Linked DNA regions of Homo sapiens: region 1 is linked to region 2. Evidence: fine-mapped expression QTL. A gene starts in region 2. The other region holds a variant in brackets. All regions are shown on one strand. Distances are between the middles of the regions.

Region 1 (2,898 bases), 22 kb after region 2:
CTCCCGGCCCAGATCCAGCCCTGTCCTCTCCTCCCCCGCTGTCTCCTTGAAATTGCCTCTCCACCCAGACTGCTCCCAGCACTCCCCTTGCTGTTTTCAAGCCAAAGGAAGTAACTTAAGCAAGAGAGATGTGTTTTAGAGCCCGGCAAGGATTTCTCAATAGAGGGAAGACCCTAAGATGGGCTGAGTGGAATCCAGGCATCATCCCTGGGATCTAGGTCGAAATGCCTCTTGGGGACCTAAGCCAGGCAGGGGAAGGTAGCAGGACATAACCACAGGCTGGAATCACAGGCAGGAGCAGGAAGAGAGCCCAGGAGAACGAGGTGACACAACACGGCTAAGCTCCAGACTGGCTGGTGGAAGGAAGAGCTGAAGTCGGGACCCAGCAGGAAACAAGGAGCATGAGGCCACATCGTTTAGCAGAGCTTCTGCCAGGCTCGCCAGGAGGTCTCCTTCCCACCTTCGAAGTCCTCAGACTCTCCGCCATCTCTCCCAGGCCCAGGCGAGATCCCTGAGTAGGATTACTAGACAGACTGTCCTCTCCCACTGTCTTGGAGTGTCCCAAGGCCAGAGAGGCAGGATCCTGGCAGTAGAAGAGAGGGGGAAAATGATGTCCCAGCTCTAGAACAACAGACTCAGTCTTCAATAAATATTTGTTCAATGGATCAATACATGTGTGTCAGACGCCTGAGACAAAGACAAAAGGCAGCGCTCTCCTTACAGTATTTGCAGTCAGGTGAAGAGGCCATGATCAAAGAAGCTCCAGAGGCCTATGGAGCCTGTAACAGGAAAACTTCCTTCTTTTTTTTTTTTTTTTTTTTGAGATGGAGTCTCACTCTGTCGCCCAGGCTGGAGTGCAGTGATGCAATCTTGGCTCACTGCAAGCTCTGCCTCCCGGGTTCACGCCATTCTTCTGCCTCAGGCTCCCGAGTAGCTAGGACTACAGGTGCCCGCCACCACGCCTGGCTAATTTTTTGTGTTTTTAGTAGAGACAGAGTTTTACCATGTTAGCCAGGATGGTCTCGATCTCCTGGCCTCATGATCCACCTGCTTCAGCCTCCCAGAGTGCTGGGATTACAGGCGTGAGCCACTGAGCCTGGCCTTGAAAACTTCCTTCTAATAGGGCAAGCTTCCTTCTGGGAGCCTGAGCCGAGTCTTGACGAGTAGTAGGTGTTAGCCCCAAATGGCCCACCTGGAGGGCCCACCTAGAGTCAGGAGGCCACAGGGCTCTGGCTGGAGGCACAGAGGGCGACTTGGTGGAAAAGGTGGGAAAGGATGGGTTCAGGGAGGGGAGGACATGGTGGGAACCGCAGCCCCCATGTGGGGAGTGTTTATCATGCACCAGGCCTCATGCTAAGTGCAGTTAGTGTACCATCCAGTTTTACAAATGAGGAAACAGAGACTCAGAGGCATTAAGTAACTTGCTCATAGCCTCAGTTGGAAGGTGACAGAACCAGAATTCAAACTCAGGCTGTCAGTGTCTAGGGCCCAGTTGGACCCAGGGCAGAGCAGAATGATATGAGGAGAGGTGGGGAGGTTCCTGGAACAAGGGCCAGAATCTAGTGTGCTCCCTGGGGATGTGGATAGAGGTCCAGGGACCTCTTTGGATGTGTATACACTCTTGGGTGTGTAGATGTGTTGGGTGACATTTTCTCAGGACATAAAGGCTTCTTCCTTCCTTCCGATTTCCTTATTTTAGAGCAGGTGACTAGAATCCTGCAGCTGAAGCTAGAGTCTTTTTGGGCATGGGGTGGGTCCC[A/G]TGTGTTTGGGAAAGCAGCCACCATGTATGGAAATGCCTCTTGAACAATGGGAATGATGGAGAAGTTGAGAAAAGCTGGAGTTGTAGTGAGTGCAGATGCTGAGCAGTGGGATGGGGTGCCAGGACACCAGGTCTATTCTGGGGCCTGGAACTGAAAGTCCTCTGTGCCATAATGGGCAGCTGTGGTCTCTCGTCTGACTCCTGCACCTCTTCCCTGCTTCCTAGCCTCCCTCTTCATGCTGGAATCCCCTGCCCCTCTGCCCCTAGACCACCCCCAACTCCTTCCACAACACAGCCTCCCTCTCTCCCCTTTGGTTTATTTGAGATTCTCCTGTCCTCAGGATTTTCGGCCTTTGGCCAGAGCCTCTTCAGAAGGTGCGCTCAGGTGGTTGGCCCTTAGAAGGCTGGGCGACAAGGGGACGGCTCCCCTCAGGGTTGGTGGAGCCAGAATGCTCAGGATCTCTGGGCTGAAGCCCAGGACTCCACCTGGACCCCAATTCATAAGACAGAGAGGGGTGGCCCAGATACTGCCTATAGGGCAGCCCTGGAGGCAAGGTTCCTCCTCTCCCTTTGAGCCCATCTCTCTACACTGGCCTTGGAGTGGTGGCCAAGTGTATGTGTGTGTGTGTGATTGTGCGTGCATTTGTGTGTGCATACGTGCGTATGTGCGTGTGTGTGTGGTGGGGCAGGCAGAGGAATCTGAACTTTAGGAGAGAGAAAAATAATGTGGTGCAGGGGGTTGGATAACAAAGGATTTTTGCTTGCAACTAATAGTCTCCAGCTGCAAAAATACCAAAGGGGAGGCCAGGCAGGCCGAGGACTCCAGTTCTTGCCAACTCCTCACCGGCCTGCTGAGTGGGGCCCTGCCTGGCCTTTGGGGAGGTGGAAGGGAGACCGGCCAAGGGTAAATATCTGAGAGCAGGGATGATCTCTCTGCCTTCCTTCCCGGAATTGGGAGGGAATCCAGGCCACATCCTGAGGCTGGGGGGGCTGATTGTGGAGCTGCACCTGGGATAGCGGCATCAGATCTCTGCAGGTTTCTTCCTTCTCTCTCTTGCCAAGAGAAGGGTGGATAGGGGGAGCAGGGGCAGGGTATTGCCAGCCCTAGGGCTGGGCAGTGACTCAGGGAAGCCTCAGGA
Region 2 (2,898 bases):
CATAAAGTCTGAGGTTTCTAGCCCAGGAGACTAAAGGCAGGTGGCCACCGCGCTGAGCAAAGCCGGCTGGAAGAAGCTAAAGGTTGAGCTCACTGTCATTAGGAGGCAAGTCCTTCGTGCTGCTCCTGTTTCTGCCAAGGACAGACTGGAGTGGGGACTTTTCCGTAACTAGAACGTAAAAGGGGGAACAGTCCCTCCTCTCCAGCGTCAATTTTTGGCAGCCGACGTCGTCTGCCCCGCTCCTTGAACTCTGACATGCAGACACCTAGAAAGTCAGACACTAAGGTAACAGCCATAAAACGCCGCCCAGAAGGGGGCAGTGACCAAAAGCACGTTCACTGGCCCCTGGGAACCGCCTGGCGCCTGCCTTCTGCAAAGTATCATTCCCGTGTGGGCTGAGCCTGGGGACAAAGGTCCGGCGCTCAGCAGACACCTCCTTGGAACCCGAGGCCTGGAAACGAAGGTCCAGAGTCCCTCATCTTATTCCAAATCCTGGCGCTCGGAATCTAAAACCCTAACTTGATGGCAAGCCAGTCAGAAGGTATTAAAAAAAAAAAAAAAAAAAAAAACAGAAAAATAAATGAGCCCCGACTTCTTGGGCGAAAGGGGGTGGCCTTTCCTCAACCCCACCCGCTGGTGACTCACCTCCCTCCAAACCAGGGCCTGCCCCTCCCGCGCCTAGGGCTGGGCGAGCAGGGCGGGCGGGTACTAAGGTGGGCTCCATCCCCGAGCCCCACGCGGGCGGACAAGCTCCGGCGTGTCCCCTCGGGTGTCCCTGTTTACTCCGAGCCCGGGAGCGAGGTGGGGGCGGGTCCTCGCGGTCCCTCCCCAACCCCGCCCCCTCCTTCGCAGGCCCCAATCCCAGTCCGGTCTTCCAAAGTCTCCAAATCAAAGCTCAGCCTTTCCCTGCACCTTCCCCGCGGACTGGCGGTCCCTGTCCCCACCCCGGGCAGAGGAGGCACCTTCAGGGTTCCCCTAGAAAATCGAGCCTCGGCCCAGACCACTGAGTCCCGGACGCCCCCGGAGGGAGCCTGAAATCCTAGAGTATGACACTGAGTTTCAAAGGGGAGCCGCTCAGCTCTCCGCCCACTGCCCAATCCCACCCTCGACCCCTTCTGCTCTCTGGAGCACCAGGGAGGAGGGCCCAGCCAGGGGAGAGGGCGCCCCAGGCCCCAAACTAGCCAGCGAGTCCCCGGGACCCTCACTCTTGGACCGCTTTCCAGAACTCCGAACCCTGTCGCGGGTCCGCGTCGCCCTCCCCCGGGCAGCGCGTCAAATCGGCGCATGCGCACTCACTGGATTGCCGCGTAGCTCTTTCTCCCCCCACCCACCAACCTTTTTTCTTTCCCCGCCCCTTCCCTCCCTCCCTCCTCAACCCGTCCCCTCCCTCTCCCCCATCAGCCCCCCCCTCGGCACTTCAGTCCGGGGAACAGCGGTGCGAGCTCCAGGCCCATGCACTGAGGAGGCGGAAACAAGGGGAGCCCCCAGAGCTCCATCAAGCCCCCTCCAAAGGCTCCCCTACCCGGTCCACGCCCCCCACCCCCCCTCCCCGCCTCCTCCCAATTGTGCATTTTTGCAGCCGGAGGCGGCTCCGAGATGGGGCTGTGAGCTTCGCCCGGGGAGGGGGAAAGAGCAGCGAGGAGTGAAGCGGGGGGGTGGGGTGAAGGGTTTGGATTTCGGGGCAGGGGGCGCACCCCCGTCAGCAGGCCCTCCCCAAGGGGCTCGGAACTCTACCTCTTCACCCACGCCCCTGGTGCGCTTTGCCGAAGGAAAGAATAAGAACAGAGAAGGAGGAGGGGGAAAGGAGGAAAAGGGGGACCCCCCAACTGGGGGGGGTGAAGGAGAGAAGTAGCAGGACCAGAGGGGAAGGGGCTGCTGCTTGCATCAGCCCACACCATGCTGACCCCGCCGTTGCTCCTGCTGCTGCCCCTGCTCTCAGCTCTGGTCGCGGCGGCTATCGACGGTGAGTGAGATTCCGCGTCCCCCTTGGACCCCTGGGGGCACCCTCTCCCCAGCCCCCACTCCTGCATACGGATGGGGAAGGGAGACGCGGGAGGGGGTGCCTTTTGTTATCCCAGTCCAGCTGACACAGCAGCGGCCCGACTGGGGGCGGGGATGGGGTCCGATTTGGGGGATGGGGGCCCTGGGCAAATGATGCTTCCGGGGCCCCCCAGCACAAACAAAGACCAGAGGCCTGGGTAGAGAGAAGAGGGCTCCCCATTTTTCTGATCCTGGGGAGGAGAGGCCTTCTTTTCCTATCTCTGTTCGGGGAGGGCCTCCGCCTCCCCTACATCCTCACAACCCCCCACCCCCCATCTGAATTGTGAAGGAATCCGGATTTGCAATGTTCGGCTGCAAAAGGGGGTGGGGGTGGGGGGGGTGGCTTTTGCACTGGCCTCTGTAGCTCGAAAGGGGAGCCAGGCCAGGGGTACCCTGCCGGGCAGAGGGCAGGCAGGCCCGGGAAGGCTGTGGGTGGGGAGAGGGAGGGCCCCCTGCTTGGGCGTGGAATCGACCCCAGAGCCCCGGCTGGAGGCCTGGGTGCTGAAGTAGGCTCTTCCCCCTCTCAGGGCCTCTGTCAGTAGCCTGGGGTAGGGCTGTGTTGGGGGGCAGAGAGGGGGAGCTCGCCATACTATGTGACTTTGAATTTTCCTTCTTAATTCCTGGGAGCTTTGAGATGAAAAAACGTCAGATGTCATCACTGGGGAAGGGGACTGGAGAATGGCCTGGAATGCTGGGGTAGGAGGGTGGGGGAGGCTGCCTTCTTCCTGACTTCTGGCTTCATCACAGTTTGGATTGGAAGGAGAGTTGGAGGTTGGATGGGGATTATGGCTGTGCCCCCACACTCCTTTAGTAAATCTGTTTATTCCCTGCACCCCTCCAAGCCCAAAACCCCATACA

The links.
Region 1: its variant is fine-mapped to the expression of LRP1 in whole blood (INTERVAL, PIP above 0.99).

What each region holds. Positions count from the first base shown.
Region 1 is chr12:57,149,389-57,152,286 of GRCh38, forward strand. All of the region lies in intron 6 of LRP1 (LDL receptor related protein 1), which reads left to right. Among named protein-coding and RNA genes, the nearest start is that of LRP1-AS, 3.2 kb to the left of the region's middle. RefSeq lists an enhancer at 1-558. The variant A/G (reference allele first, on the strand shown) is at 1,760.
Region 2 is chr12:57,127,069-57,129,966 of GRCh38, forward strand. It overlaps LRP1 (LDL receptor related protein 1), which reads left to right and starts at 1,415. Exons shown (of 89, transcript NM_002332.3): 1 at 1,415-1,963. The coding sequence starts at 1,897. RefSeq lists an enhancer at 422-1,075.